Regions from separate parts of the Homo sapiens genome. Here region 1 is linked to region 2. The links come from fine-mapping of genetic effects on gene expression. A gene starts in region 2. The other region holds a variant in brackets. All regions are shown on one strand. Distances are between the middles of the regions.

The links. PIP is the estimated chance that this variant, and not a neighbour inherited with it, causes the effect. A credible set is the group of variants that fine-mapping cannot tell apart.
Region 1: its variant is the best candidate, but not a certain one, in a credible set for the expression of PCDHA8 in cerebellar hemisphere (GTEx, PIP 0.70).

The regions. Positions count from the first base shown.
Region 1 is chr5:140,803,179-140,811,525 of GRCh38, reverse strand. The region is part of intron 1 of PCDHA1 (protocadherin alpha 1); the gene reads right to left. All of the region lies in intron 1 of PCDHA2 (protocadherin alpha 2), which reads right to left. It overlaps PCDHA3 (protocadherin alpha 3), which reads right to left. Exons shown (of 4, transcript NM_018906.3): 1 at 7,935-8,347. It overlaps PCDHA4 (protocadherin alpha 4), which reads right to left and starts at 4,458. Exons shown (of 4, transcript NM_018907.4): 1 at 1,954-4,458. The coding sequence starts at 4,338. It also overlaps PCDHA@. The variant C/G (reference allele first, on the strand shown) is at 4,673.
Region 2 is chr5:140,837,832-140,846,178 of GRCh38, reverse strand. It overlaps PCDHA8 (protocadherin alpha 8), which reads right to left and starts at 4,992. Exons shown (of 4, transcript NM_018911.3): 1 at 2,464-4,992. The coding sequence starts at 4,857. All of the region lies in intron 1 of PCDHA1 (protocadherin alpha 1), which reads right to left. All of the region lies in intron 1 of PCDHA2 (protocadherin alpha 2), which reads right to left. All of the region lies in intron 1 of PCDHA3 (protocadherin alpha 3), which reads right to left. It also overlaps PCDHA4, PCDHA5, PCDHA6, PCDHA7 and PCDHA@.

The DNA of each region.
Region 1 (8,347 bases), 35 kb after region 2:
CTGGGTATATATCTAAAGGATTATAAATCATGCTACTATAAAGACACATGCACATGTATGTTTATTGCGACACTATTCACAATAGCAAAGACTTGGAACCAACCCAAATGTCCATCAATGATAGACCGGATTAAGAAAATGTGACACATATACACCATGGAAGACTATGCAGCCGTAAAAAAGGGTGAGTTCATGTCCTTTGTAGAGACATGGATGAAGCTGGAAACCGTCATTCTGAGCAAACTATCACAAGCACAGAAAACCAAACACTGCATGTTCTCACTCATAGGTGGGAATTGAACAACGAGAGCACTTGGACACAGGGTGGGGAACATCACACACTGGGGCCTGTTGAGGTGTGGGGGACTGGGGGAGGGATAGCATTAGGAGAAATACCTAATGTAAATGATGAGTTGATGGGTGCAGCAAACGAACATGGCACACATGTATACCTATGTAACAAACCTGCACGTTGTGCACATGTATCCTAGAACTTAAAGTATAATAAAAATAATAAGAAGAAATAAAAATAAATCTTGACCCCTACCTCACAACAATGATAAAAATATGTATATTCCAAATGGATTGTAGATGTAATGTAAACAATGAAATAAAAGATACCACAGAAAATTATCTTTGTGAAATAGGATCAGAAGCAAAAATTGATAAATTGAGTTTAATCAAAATTATGACTTTCTATTCACCAAAAGACAAAAAAGAATTAAAAACTAGCCATGAGGTTGAAAACTACTAAAAAAAGGAGTTATGTTCAGAATACAAGATTTGTTTAAGTAATAAGAAAAACAAGATAAGGAAATAAATAAAGTTCTATGGAAGCAAAAAGAAGAGAAAAAAGAAAAGAAAAACAACAGACTAGAGAAATAGGAGATTTGAGCAGCTATTGCACAAAATAAGGTATAAAAATTGCCAAAATAAAATAGAAAGGTACTCAACTTCATTTAAATATAAAATAATTTCAAAATGAGATTACAAAAGTCACCCAGTAAAATGGCTAACATGAAAATAACCTGACAAATGTAGAGATGATGTGGCCCAGCAGAAAGCCTTATGCACTACTAGGAATGTAAACAGGTAAAAACATCTTGGAAAATTGGTTGGTGTTAGCTACAAAAGACAAAGATACACACATATTCTGTGACCCACAAACACAACTCTTAGGCAAAAACCTGAGAGAAATCTGTGTACATGGGCATCAAAGAAATGTACAATATATTTATGATGGCATTATTTGAAATAGACATTGAGGCACAATGCAAATTCCTGAACAGTAGAATAAATAAGGTATAGTATATTTATGAAATAGTACTAGAAACAGAAATAAATAAACTACAACTACATATAACAACATGGATAATTTCATAAACAATGAGTGATAAATACAAATAACACACAAATGCACAGACAATACATGTTGTGCAAGTCCAATTAGATAACGTTCCCAAAACAGGCCCCGAACAAACAGTTATAAAAGGCAAATGTGCGGTTACACTGGAGGAAAAATAAGGGAAGTGATTTGGCAGGTGCATGCGAGGGGCTTCAGCGATGGAGGCAACGGAGCTTTTCACTTTCATACAATTTATGGAGCTTTATTATTTCAGCCTGTGCACATTTGTTTATATGTAATAGGTTAAATAATAGTAAAATGTTTTCTAAAATGTTGATTATTACCAAAAACAAAGAGGGTGAATATAGTGAAAATTTACTAGAAATTACAGTTCTGTTAATATGCATTGAATAATGCAGCATAAAATGAAGGAAGGCAATATATATTGCTCTGATGTCCTATAATTCCAAAAGACTTTAGTTAAAATGGATATGTAAAAAGAGGTAAAATTTTAACCCAGGGAAATTTGACTCTTAGAAATAAATTTACGAAGAAGTTGATAGAGAAAAACAATACGAAAATTAAACAAAAGGATGTTATACACTAACCTTTGCAAAGGATTCCTCAGTTGTCTGCAGCTGATCTTCTCTGTCCCTAGAGTCAGGTAAACTGGGGCTGAAGGCCATGAGGTCGGTCTTGGGTGGGCCCTCACCAGAGCACACCCTCGGCCTCCTCTGCTGCGAGTATGACCAGCTCCCCACCGCACTGGAGCACACCAGCGTGGGCTTGCCCGGAGCGCACGCGCCCTCGGTGGGCAGCGCAGAGCACCGCAGCGCGGTGTACAGCAGCAGCGTGAGCACCAAAAGGCTGGACACCGCGCAGATGGCAATGATCAGGTATACGTTGACATCCACCAGCGCAGCATCGGGACCCACAGCGCCCACCAACGCCCGTGAGGAGGCCTTTGGCGCCTGTCCACTCTCCACAAGTGACACCAGCACAGTGGCCGTGGCCGTCAGCGCGGGCTCGCCGTGGTCCTTCACCAGTACCAGTAGGCGGTGGCGCGGAGCGTCCGTTTCGTCCAGGGCACGCGTTGTGCTGATCTCGCCAGTGTACAGCCCCACGCGGAACGGGATGCGCGCGCCACCAGTCCCCGGCTGCAGCTCGTACGAAAGCCACGCGTTGTAGCCCGAGTCAGCATCCACCGCGCGCACCTTTGCCACCACGTGGCCCACACCCACCGACCATGGCACCAGCTCGCTCACTGCGCCACCAGTGCCACCCGCCCGAGGCGCTAGCAGTGCTGGCGCGTTGTCGTTTTCGTCCAGCACGAACACCTGCAGCGTCACGTTGCTGCCCAGAGGTGGCACGCCGGCATCGCGAGCGGTCACCTGAAACTGCAGCAGCTCTAGCTCCTCGTGGTCCAGCGGCTGCAGCGCGTACACCTTGCCGCTCTCCGCATGCACCGAAACGTAGCTCGACAGCGCGCGCTCCCCTACCCGCCGCTCTACCAGCGAGTAGGACACCAGCGCGTTCTCCTGCGCGTCCGCGTCCCACGCAGACACAGTGAAGATGTGGCAGCCCGGCGGGTTGTTCTCCTTCACGAACACTGTGTACTCGGGCTGCGCGAACGCCGGAGCGTTGTCGTTCACATCAGCCACCTCCACAGAAACACTGGCCGTGGCCCACAGCGAAGGCGAGCCCCCGTCTCGCGCGGTCACCACCAGCTCATAGGCTGACACGCTCTCGCGGTCCAGGGCACTGTCCAGCACCAACGAGTAGTAATTCTTGAAGGTGGACACCAGCTTGAAGGGGACGTGGGACGTCAAGGAGCAGGTGACCAGCCCATTGACACCCATGTCTTTGTCGGACACGCTGATCAGGGCGATGACTGTACCCAGTGGAGCGTCCTCTCTAATTGGAAGTGATAAAGACTTGAATTCCAAATCTGGGACATTATCGTTGTTGTCTTCTACTTCCACAATAACTCTACAATGGCCAGAAAGTGGGAGCTGTCCCTTATCAATGCCCTCTACAATAATTTCATAGGATTTGCTTTCTTCAAAGTCAATATATCCCTTTACAATAATTTGTCCAGTAATTGGATCTATGTGAAACTTGGATTTCACATTTGGCGAAATATCATTTGAGAATGAATAAACAATGTCCCCATTCAATCCTTCGTCTAAATCTGAGGCGTTAAGTTTAATTACCAATGTTCCATTAGGAACATTTTCTAGTAATCTCACCTTATAAATGGTTCTGTCAAAAGCTGGGGCATTGTCATTGGCATCCAGTACTGTGATGAGTAACTGAACGGTGCCAGTCAACTCGGGTTTGCCTCCATCAGTGGCTGTGAGCACTAAAAAAATCTCCGGAGCTTCTTCTCTGTCTAAAGATTTCCGTAATATAAGCCCAAGACCTTTTACCAGCTCGTCATCAGGTGGTTTTTCCAGAGAAAAGTATTCATTTGGGCTCAGTCTGTAAGTGAGCAGGGCGTTCTCCCCGATATCTGCATCCGAGGCGCCCTCTAGTGGAAACCGAGAGTCAAGCGGCCTGGATTCCGCGATGGACAGGTTCTTTTGTGTTGCTGGGAACACCGGCGGGTTATCGTTAATGTCCCTCACCTCCACGTCCACATGGAAAACCTGCAGCGGCCTGTCTACGATCACCTCCAGGTGGATGCTGCACTCCGCGCTCCGCCGGCACAGCTCCTCCCGGTCGATCCGAGAATTCACAAACAAAATGCCATTCTGCAGATTTACCTCCAGAAGGCCTCCGCGGCCCTTGGACGCCACCCGGAACAGGCGCGGCACCAGCTCCGCCAGCTCCAGTCCCAGGTCCTGCGCGATGCGGCCCACGAAGGTGCCGTGTTTGGCCTCCTCGGAGACCGAGTAGTGGAGCTGACCGTTCCCTGCCTCCCAGGCTGCGAGGAGAAGAAGTAAGAGCAGCAGACGCCGGGATTCCTGGCCGCTTCCCCAGGAAAACTCCATCTTTAGTGCACAGTATTTTGTTCTGATTAAATATCGTTTCTCAAAGTCAAGGGAAATCTTTTAATCGGTCAGTCAAGTGCAGCTGCATCCTCCATATTTCAGACTCCAAAGAGTGTATATGGTTCCTTCCAGTAAGAATAGAAGGAATTTTCCCTTCTTCCTCCTTCTCTCATGTATTTTGTGGTAAAGAGCGACATCATGTGGCTCCAAACCGTAAGTAGCAATTGTGGAAACCCCCACACACTCTACTGTAAACTACTTGGTTTTATTTATTATTTCAGTCGTTTCGGAGAATAGGAATACATTTTGTACTACTGTGGTACACATTGTACCA[C/G]TGATTGATTGAGTGTGGTCCTTAGTTTCGCCATAGGGGCAACTTTTACTTCAGTAGAAATAATTTTTTCAACACAGGTTTTAAGTATTACAGAGACCTAACTATACACTTTGTAAACATGTAACTGTAAACTGTTGATTAGAAAAATTCATTACAGATTCCTGTGTTCCCAAGAATTCCAGGGTTTTTTTTTATTAATGATAACACCCTCTTCACCCTAGTATTTCTGGTGTTGTTGACTTGAGGGGACTGGTCTCTAGGGAACTTCTGGTGCCAAGAACAAGCTATTGACAGGGAAATTTGCAGATGTTTTATAAAAGGATCAAAGACCATCAGCATTTAATTAGATGTCTTCCTTGAGTCATGTCAGGGCTGAAAGTGCAAGGAAGCAGGAAGTTATAGCAAATAGCTTGCATGGAAAAGCATTCCAAATAATTTTATTCATTGGAACTCATTTGCTCCCATGAGAAACGCTGGTATTCTCATTTTGACTCTTACAGTTTATAAGTACTTGCTTGTTCTCCAGTATGTAATGTGCCTAAGCTTCTATTTTCTCCTATAGTGCTTATATATTTTAGCCAAACTGAATATTTCCTGCTTCCAATAGCTTTTTTTAATAAACAAGCATGTTCATTTTGTCCTGTCTATAAGTAATCCACATCATTTCTAAACTCTTCTAAAGCCAATTTACCCCATTTTATAACCACTTAAAACTTCCCTGACCCATGAAGAATGTCATGATCAAACCAATTGAACAGGTATTTTTTCTTCTTTTACAAACTGCAGCACCAGGGTGGAATCGCGTGGGCCATTTATTACATTAATTTATCTCTTATAAGCATTTGAGTATGTGTGTCCTTTTTTGGAATATATATTTTAAAGGGAATAGTTGTATCTTAATTGTTTAATAGCTCAGAGGGACTTACCTAATATTTCCTAAATATTTACCCTGCAGAAAATGTTTGCTTCCTTCCATTGCCTAATAAAATGCATTAATTTAAGGTGATCGCATATCTAGTTGGGAAAATGTGGTGTTTCAATAGCCTCTATGATTTTCTAAAGATACAAAAAAAGTCTCTAGACATTTCCCCAATTAAGATGTATTTCAAGTTCAATGTTGAAAACTTGGGTTTTAGCTTAATTTTTATTCTAATTCTTGGTAATCATGATCTTTGAATCATCCTGGGTATTAATGGGGAATGAAGACTTCCCAATAAATAAACCACAATACATTTTCTTACATAAAGAAATTTAATATATAAAGACATAATGGTAGCCATTTAAAAACTTTCCTTGCCTCCTATATCCATAAAGTTATTTTCATCCTGTTTGTCTAAACAAAAAATCAATCTAGTGAAAATAGCTTTACGCTCCCTCTCTATTGAAGAACTACACTCACACAAACACACACACACAAAAACCAAAACAACAACAAAAAACCCACCAAATTTCTGAATCAAACAGAAACCAGAGTACTTTCACTATGTGGGGACCCAAACTATATTTTTACAAAATGATCATTGACATCAAGCACATTGGAAAAAAGGAGGAAGAATTCCATTTTCACCCATTTCATTTGTAATATTTTCATTTACCAGGTATTTTAATGTACAGATGGGGAATGCAGCAGAATAGAAAACAATGTTTATTTGGTAGCTATTCAATATTTATTTGGCATAGCATCAGTACATCTGTGAAGTGAAAATTCCAAAGTCTTCAAAATGTCTTTGCCAAGAGTCTTGTTAGACAATAGTTTCAAGAGGCAAGCTGGATTTGAAGATTGAAGTTCCATATCTGGGAAGACAAGTACTTTGGCTGACTCTATTATATTCAAGAAGCTGATAACAGAACTAAATTTTTAAAATACTGACCTGAGATGGACACACTATGGCTACTACTTCATGGACAAGGGAGCAACAAAGGATAGTGCCAAAAAAGGAAATAAAGAAAATGGAAGTGAGGGGAAGGAGAGGAGTCAAGAAAAATATCTATTTTACGTGTTAGACCTCCCACACTGTCAATGAGTATTAACCAGGTTTCAGTTGGTTACTATTTCTCTCCAGTGGTAGGGAAACTTAAATGGGAGTCCAACTAATTGCTAGAGGAGATAACCAAATATGTAGGGGTAGTGATTAGAAAAAAGTCTACCTTCAATTTCATTTGGTTCTGGTTATTTGGAGTTTTCTACTTATTGCATGGCACACATTAATAGGCAGGATGCTATTCAGAGAAGTTAACCAGTAATAACATTATAACATTGGCTTATCAAACTTATTTCATATTAGCATCCTTAGTATGGTATGCAAAAGACACTAATGAATAAAAAGTTTTGCTAGTAGGGATAGTTTTAAAATTAGATACCATAATTATTTTCAAGATATTGTTCAGATTGAAAATTATTTTTAACAAGATTTAAAACATTCTTTTAAAATGAATATATAAATATACTATACAACTATTAAATTTTCACTTCATATTGATATTTTAGTTATTAGTAATAAATTTTAACATATAATACAGTAGTATTATTAAAGTAGTATTAAATAAAGTAGTGATAAACTAAAGATGAACAAAGATGCAATTCTAAATGCAATTGTTATTCTCGATTTTTTTCCCAACTGGGAAATCAAGAAACAATAAACGGTATTGCCAAATTAGAGCACAAGGCCTAAAATGAATCATATTCAAGTAAAAAATAAGGATTGAGACTCCAAACAAGTGAATAAGAGAATAAAAGAGGTTCCATAAAAGACAACAGGTGTAATGATCTAATTTTTGAAACTGAAGGTGGAAAAGCATAATCAATAGGGAGTTATAAGCATTAGGTGAACTCATAAAATGAGCAAGTAACATTTGTACTAACAGGTAGTAGGAAGTCCAAATGAAAAGTGGCAAAAGATATTGAAGAAGCATTGTATAGGGATAAGTATAAAACAAGTCGAAGTCAGATTCTCTAAATAATGCAATTCATCTAAGAAAAAATATTTGTCTTATACCCAGGCATTTAGCAATAAAATAATTCTACTACTGCACCTAATAACAAAACAAAATTACAAGTGTGGATATCATAACTTACTGCTGATTTGGTTCAAAAATTAGCAACAAAAATCTTACCGTTTTAACCACAAAACCACAAAACTGGAAAAGTCTAATTATGAATCACATAATTCATACTTAACTATTAATGTATTTCCAGAGGAGTGGAAACATTGAGGAATGAAAAACAAAGACATTTTGGAAAGAATAAATAAAAATTACTCACTTTGGCTGAGAGATCAACGTCCACATCCTGTTTCTCCTCTCTATCCCGGCTAATTGGACAAGGAGGAAGGCTAGGGCTAAAAGCCATGAGGTCGGTCTTGGGCAACCCCTCTCCAGAGCACACCCTCTGCTGCCTCTGCTGCGAGTATGACCAGCTCCCCACCGCGCTGGAGCACACCAGCGTGGGCTTGCCCGGCCCACAGTCGCCTTCGGTTGGCGGCGCGGAGCACCGCAGAGCAGTATATAGCAGCAGTGTGAGCACCAACAGACTGGACACCGCGCAGATGGCGACGATCAAGTACACGTTGACATCCACCAGTGCAGCTTCCGGGCCCGTGGCGCCAGCGGACGCCTGGGACGAGGCCTTGGGTGCCTGGCCACTCTCCACCAGCGACACCAGCACAGTGGCCGTGG
Region 2 (8,347 bases):
CCTACTCAGGCCTCTGCAGGATCTCAGGCAACTTTTAAATATGGGAAACATACAACTATCAAAGTAAGATAGTCTACACATTCCTTGGAAGGACTTTAACCTTTCCAAAAAACTGTTTTCCCACATAGGTGGTGTTAACTTGACTTTCCTAAACTCGTAATAACTTTTAGATTTTTTTCATTCCACCACACAACATTCAAAATATTGAAACATCCTAGGTTAATCTAAAAAATGACTTTACAGAAGATAGTTTTACACAAAAATAAGATTAATATGGAAGGCCATAACGACTTTCTGACATTTTAGGTTGCCTTTCTGCAATCACTAACTTCTTTTCTCTTAAGAATGGTAATAACTAAATTTTATTATGTACCTATCACTTGCCAGAGTTTATTATTAATAATTTATAACTATTAACTTACTTGATACAAATAAATCTATAAAGTAGAATTCACATTTATCATGCATACATATAATGCCAAGGAACTGAATAACAAATCCTTTACCAATGGCTACACATACAAAAATTGGTAAAGGGAGGACTTGATTTAGAGAGCTTCAGAATCCACAATACTTAATAACTAACTTCTGACACATTTCAATCCCAGAAATTCTTAATAGCTAAAAGCATCACCATAATTAGAATAGTGAAAAGTATTAATGTACAAGAAATAGGTTTAGACTTTCTCACTGTGAAAGCACAACCCCAAATTCAAATATCAGAGAGTTGAAGAAAAACAGAACTAAAATGACTTAAATGATAAATTGCCAAATACAATGCTAGGTGGTGGAAAGAATCCTCCTATTTATGATATTTTGTAAAAGTCAATTAAATGTTTAGGAGAATTCAGTAATTAAAGTAATACCTGAGAACCAGGTAGACATAGACAGGATAGGAAATATTACTTTCACAAAGGAAAACACATATTATTCAAACAGGATAATAAAGATAATCATATTTTTTAAAAGGACTTAAATGAAAACAATCATATTTTTTAAAGGACTAAAATGAAAACAATTCGCTTTTACACAATGTGTTCAAATAGTCAAATAAAATGCTAAACATGGACAGGCATTAAGAGAACTGTAAAATAAACTACAAAACAATGCTGCTTTGAGGTTACCTTCAGTTGGACAAGGGGGCTAAAATATGCCCATAAATGATTACATTATTTGTTCATAAGTGATTAAAAGATTTAAAACAATACTAATAACAAACTGTAAGAATTCAGAGTCCCAGAAATCGTTCATTCCCTTCCATCAATTTCTACCATTCTCTCCAAAGCAATATGCACGAAGTCTAATGGGTATTTAATATCCAGGCAGGTCCAACAGTCACAAGAAGCAAACGTGTAAAAAGACAAGAAGAAATAAAAGAAAGAAAATGTTGAAAGATACCAAAATAAAGTATCTTGGATTTTTCAAAGATTTATCCCATAATACTAAATATTTTTACACGAACTAATGGGCCATGATAATCCCAAATATTCTGTATAATAAGGATTTATAAATTATATGTTTGGTTTGCAAGAATGAAATTATCATGTATAGTTTTTCTGATGAAAACATTTTTCTAAGTCATATATTAAATATCACTTTAATGTGGAATATTATTGAAAATATTCCAACTCATGAACAAAGGGTTGAATGATTAGAGTTTAGAAGATACTTGCAAGAATAAAGTAATCATTTCCTAAACATAGAGGCTCAAAAAATGTTAAGTTGGCGACAATACAACTGTAAAAATCATGTAGAATAAAAAACATGTCTCCAAATGGTAAAATGGTCTAAATAATGAATTAAAAGAAGGATTACAAATCTCTTCCCTCTTGATTTTACTTTTTAACTAGTTTATAATAAAATTAGGAAGAATATGAAAACTATCAAATTTTGAAAAACACTATCATTCTGTATTTTATCACTACACTGCTTAAAACGGCAATAGTGAAACACCAAAGATATTTGTGACTACCAGACACTAAAAAGTCAGATAAGATGAATAAACCGAGATCTTAAAGTGAATAAAAGTAAATATAAAGACAACATATTTAAAACATGCATTTCAAAGTACAGCATATGGAGTAAGATTAAGAGTTCAGTGCCTAAGGACAAAAGAATAAACGCTTTGGGGGAATACTTTCACCAAAGATCAAAATGCCCTGAACGTCCTTAGAGTATTGTTCAGAGAAGACGGCTGTAAGGCAGGCCAAAATAAATATTCAGTAAAAAATGGATATCATCCAACCATAACTTGAGTTTCAAGATAGACCCAACTTGTGGAGAATGATTAATACTGTATTATGCCACTGAGAAAATTCAATTAATTATAAAAGGTTTCTAAAAACTAAACAATGTTTAAATTTTCACTATAAAATACGGTGAAAAACTAAATCTGAAACACTTTTAAAGTAACTACAATTTCCACAAATAGAATTTATGAGTTCTAAATTTAAATGGACTTACTTTGAGGCCATGATCAACATTTAAATCTTGCTCTTCGCCTACATCAACTGATCCCAGATCAGGAGGAAGGCAGGGGCTGAAGGCCATGAGGTCCGTCTTCGGTGGCCCCTCACCAGAGCACACCCTCTGCGGCTGTTGTTGCGAGTATGACCAGCTCCCCACCGCACTGGAGCACACCAGAGTGGGCTTGCCCGCCCGGCACCCGCCCTCAGTGGGCAGTGCTGAGCACCGCAGCGCAGTGTACAGCAGCAGCGTGAGCACCAGCAGGCTGGATACCGCGCAGATGGCGATGATCAGGTACACGTTGACATCCACCAGCGCCGCTTCCGGACCCAAAACGCCAGCCGACTGCCTCGATGACGCTTTTGGAGCCTGGCCGCTCTCCACCAGCGACACCAGAACCGTGGCCGTGGCGGTCAGCGCAGGTTCACCATGATCCTTCACCAGGACCAGCAGACGGTGGCGCGGAGAGTCCGCTTCGTCCAGGACACGAGTGGTGCTGATCTCGCCCGTGTACAGCCCCACGCGGAACGGGATGCGAGGGCTGCTTGCAGCTGGCTGCAGCTCATACGAAAGCCACGCGTTGTAGCCCGAGTCGGCGTCCACTGCGCGCACCTTCGCTACCACGTGGCCCGCGCCCACAGACCGCGGCACCAGCTTGCTCGCTGCGCCACCAGTGCCACCCACCCGAGGCTCCAGCAGTGCCGGCGCGTTGTCATTCTCGTCCAGCACGAACACCTGCAGCGTCACGTTGCTGCCCAGAGGCGGCACGCCCGCGTCGCGCGCGCTCACCTGGAACTGCAGCAGCTCTAGCTCCTCGTGGTCCAGCGGCTGCAGCGCGTACACCTTGCCGCTCTCCGTGTGCACCGAAATGTAGCTCGACAGCGAGCGCTCGCCCACCCGCCGCTCCACAAGCGAGTAGGACACCAGCGCGTTCTCCTGCGCGTCCGCGTCTCGCGCAGACACCGTGAAGATGTGGCAGCCCGGCGGGTTGTTCTCCTTCACGAACACCGTGTACTCGGGCTGCGCGAACGCCGGAGCATTGTCGTTCACGTCGGCCACCTCCACAGACAAGCTGGCGGTGGCCCACAGCGAAGGCGAGCCCCCGTCCCGCGCGGTTACCACCAACTCATAGGCCGACACTCTCTCGCGGTCCAGGGCGCTGTCCAGCACCAACGAGTAGTAATTCTTGAAGGTGGACACCAGCTTGAAGGGGACATGGGGCATCAGGGAGCAGGTCACCTGCCCGTTGGCACCTGAATCGAGGTCGTTCACGCTAATTAGGGCGATGACAGTACCAAATTGAGCGTCTTCACGTACAGGCAAGGATAAGGAAGTCAGTGCTATCTCAGGGACGTTATCATTTTTATCCAAAATTCTCACTAAAACGGTGCAATGACCCGCCATGGGAGGATGGCCTTTGTCCGTGGCGTCAATGAGGATTTTGTATAAGTTTTCTTGTTCAAAATCCAAATTACCCCGAATCACTATTTCTCCCGTATTTCGATCTATGCTAAAGTGGTCAATAACCATAGTTTCAACAAGGCTATTAAAAGAATATGAAATTGCCCCATTGGCTCCTTCATCCGGATCAGAAGCATTCAGTTTGATAACTGTTGTTCCGTTGTCTGCGTTTTCGAATATTCTTACTTCGTATTCAGACTGTTCGAAAGTGGGAGCATTATCATTCACATCCAGCACTGTGACCAGCAGCTGAACAGTGCCTGTGAGCTCAGGTTTGCCCCCATCTGTGGCTGTCAGGAATAAGTGGTGCGCAGGAGCGTCCTCTCTGTCCAAGGATTTTCTTAATACGAGCTCAACCAGTTTATTCTCATCGTTCTTTGAATTCACATCTAGCATGAAGTAATCATGAGAGCTAAGCCTGTAGGTTAACACGGAGTTAGCTCCAACATCTGCATCGGACGCGCCCTCTAGCGGAAACCGAGAGTCTGGCATTCTGGATTCTGAAACAAACAGCTTTTGGTCTTTTACCCGGAACACTGGCGGGTTGTCATTAACATCCTTCACCTCCACGTCCACATGGAAAACCTGCAGCGGCCTGTCCACGATCACCTCCAGGTGGATGCTGCACTCCGCGCTCCGCCCGCACAGCTCCTCGCGGTCGATCCGAGAATTCACAAACAAAATGCCATTCTGCAGACTTACCTCCAGAAGGTCCCGGTGTCTTTTGGACGCCACCCGGAACAGGCGCGGCACCAGCTCCGCCAGCTCCAGCCCCAGGTCCTGCGCGATCCGGCCCACGAAGGTGCCGTGTTTGGCCTCCTCGGGGACGGAGTAGTGGAGCTGGCCGCTCCCCACCTTCCAGGCTGCGAGGAGCAGAAGCAAGAGTAGTAGTCGCCAGGATCCCAGCTCTCCTCGCCAGTGATAATCCATGTTAAATAGTCGTTTCCTATCAGAAAATATTATCTTAATATAAAGATGAACGACTGTACTTTCAGAGTCTTTTAATCCAATTCCGCTGCATCTCCCGTTGTTCGGCCTTTAGAGACAGATGCTGTCAGAGAAAAGACTTTGAACATTGACCAACCAGAACTTCTTGGTAGACAGCGACATCATGTGGCTTCAAAAGGTAATGATTACATGAATTACTTCCGCAATATCTGGGTTCTTCTATGCACTTTCTATTTCTTTATCATAATTTAATAGTAAATCCTTAACTTTATCAATTGCAGAGGCATTCATACTGTCTGGCTCCTTACATTAGTTTCAGCTAGGGATTTCTTCTTCATAAGGAAAGGAATTTCTTCCCAATATTTCAAATATCGTATCAATTAATAATAAATTTAAGTATGACCTGTATGTCATGGATATCAGAAATGTAAACTGTCCTCCATAGTTTCGTGTGGAAGAAATGCATTAATATTTATTTGGTCACCAGAAACACTGGTATATATTACTCTGAGGTGAGCATATAATTCTAACTTTTCTACATTTTATCTTCTTGTGTTCTTATTGTTAAATTTTTGCTTTTCTTTATTCAATAAATGTCAAATTGCCTGAACCGTTTTATTTACTAAAGTAATAAAAATGTATGTGCATATTCTTTACACTATTTCTCTATATCTCTATAGCTTGTTAAATTCAGCCTCTCACTTAAAACATTTTCCTTTATGATTTCTCTGACATGCCAAACTCTAGCAGTATTGCCATCATTGGCTTGTTAGTTCTTCATCTTTCTTCTGCTCCAAAAAGTGAGTATTTACCAGAATTATGCCTTTAAACTTTTTTCCCCAACTTTTTATTTAACGTTTCTATTTCCACGGCTTTAAACTAGCCTATTATTTGAAGTATTCTTAACTCCATATCTGCAACCCCCTATTTTCATTTTCTACCTGACATTTTTACCTGTATACCCTAACATTGCCTAGAAAATGAGTCGACCAAAGTTAAAAGAATATCTAATCAATAATCACCCAAAACCCAAATCATTAAAAAATCACAATTTTTATAGCATAGTGATTCTCCACATTTACTCATATGTATTTTTATGACTTCTTTTCCTTTGCCTACCATATTTAAAATTTGTATACATCCCATCTCTCCTTTCACGTGTGATAATTTCTGTCCTTATTAGTACAGCTTTCACTCGATTTCACTAAAATCTTCAACAAGTTTATCTTTCTATTGACTAATTGTCAAGACATTAGACTTCCATCTGGGAGATACGCTACGTGACCATGAGCCAATCTTCTCAGTGCTAAGGCTAACCACTTTCCAATAGGAGTCATATTTTACAGAAAATATGTTGTCTCCTTCTTGGCACACTCTTTGTTCAAGGTTTTTCTTCTATTACTTCATCTTTTTCTGTCAAAATTCTATTCATCTTTCAAAGTCCACCTCAAAAGTAAATTCTCCATGGATTCATCATGAATGCCTTCATAGTAGGCAATTAAGAGCTCCTCCAAATTTCTACAAAATTCTTACCAAAAACGTAGGTTAAATAGGAAAGGCAAATAAGGGTATTTTCTGTGAAATGATTTAAATTTGTCATCACATTATTTACCCAAAAAAATCTCTGTAGTTGACTCTAAATAGTAGCAAACAATTTGTAAAGAAAATAGTATTTCTCGATATCTCAGGAGTTTGAGACCAGCCTGGGCAACATGGTAAGACCCCATCTCTACAAAAAATACAAAAATTAGTTGGGCATGGTGGTGTGTGCCTATAGTCCCAGCAACTTGAGAGGCTGAGGTAGGAAGATCACTTGAGCCCAGGAGGCAGAGATTGCAGTAAGCCCAGATTGTGCCACTGCACTGCAGTCTGGGCTACAGAGTGAGACCCTGTCTCAAAAATAATAATCATCATCATCATCATAATAATTGATGAATACAGCTTAGGTGGCTAAGGAGGATCCCCTATCAACTTCAGGTATTTCCCAATATAAATAGGATATTTAAAACTTTAATAATATGCTAGGAAGGTTTTAAATATACATGCATGTAAGCATAAAAGCAAAGCAATAAAAACAGATTACAGTTACATCTTTGAAGGTCAAAGATATTTATAGATTTTTCCACAAAACTGAATATCTTTCAACAAGAGCAGCAAACTTGGTCTGCTTATGTGAATGACATATTATGGCTTAATGGTAAATAATTCTATTGATTATCAGACAGGTTTTTGACTTTGCATACCTCTATCCTTATTCACGTTGAAAAGAAAACAGTAACATATCCTAAAATAATTTACTAAAGTATATTAGAATATTAGGAACAGTGAAAATTGTCAGTTCTGGGTTTTTATTTTATTTTATTTTATTATTTCATTTTATTTTATTTTTGAGGCAAGGTATTGCTCTGTCACCTAGGCTGGAGTTCAGTGGCATGATAACTGCAGCTTGGACCTCCCTGGCTTAAGTGATCCTCCCACCTCAGTTTCTTGAGTAGCTGAAACTACAGACATGCATCACCATGCATAGCTAATTTTACAAAGTCTCTACAAAAGATGCACAAGCTGGTCTCAAACTACTAGACTGAAGCAATCCTCCTGCCTCGGCCTCCCGAAATGTTGGGGTTAAAGGTGTGTGCCACCATGCCCCGTTAACTATCATTTTTTTGACCAACCAAATTATTTGTAAAAAATTTTTAAAAGTCTAGACAATTCGGTTATTGTTTCATTAATGTCCCTAATACAGTACTGGATGAATAAATCATGATATATCCATAAAAGAAAATAAGATGCAAATACTTTTAAAAATAAGAAAGCAAATAATCAAAAACAAGGAATAAGCGCTAATGAAATAATATGCCACAAAACCCAATATATAATTTAGGCCGGATGCGGTGGCTCACTCCTGTAATCCCAGCACATTGGGAGGCTGAGGCAGTCAGATCACTTGAGTCCCAGATTTCGAGACCAGCCGGGGCAACATGGTGAAACTCTGTTTCTACTAAAAATACAAAAAAAAAAAAAAATTAGCATGGCTTGGTTGTTGGCGTCTTTAATCCCAGCTACTTGGGAGACTGAGGCATGAGAACTGCTTGTACCAGAGAGGCGGATTTTGCAGTGAGCTGAGATTGCACCACTGCACTCCAGAGAGGGCGACAGAGTAAAACTCTGTCAAACACACACACACACACACACACACACACACACACACACACACACACACACACACTATATATATATAACTTAAAGTGGAAAACCAAAAAGTGCAGAAAGGTAGGTTTCTACTGTAATCACTTCTTTTTTTAAAAAAAAGGAAAGATGAAAGGCAGGCTGGGTGTGGTTGTTCGTGTCTGTAATCCCAATACTTTGGGAGGCCAAGGTAGGAGGATCGCTTGAAGCCAGGAGTTCAAGACCAGCCTGGGAAACAAGACTCCACCCTGTCTCTACAAAAATAAAATAAAATTAGCCAGGCACA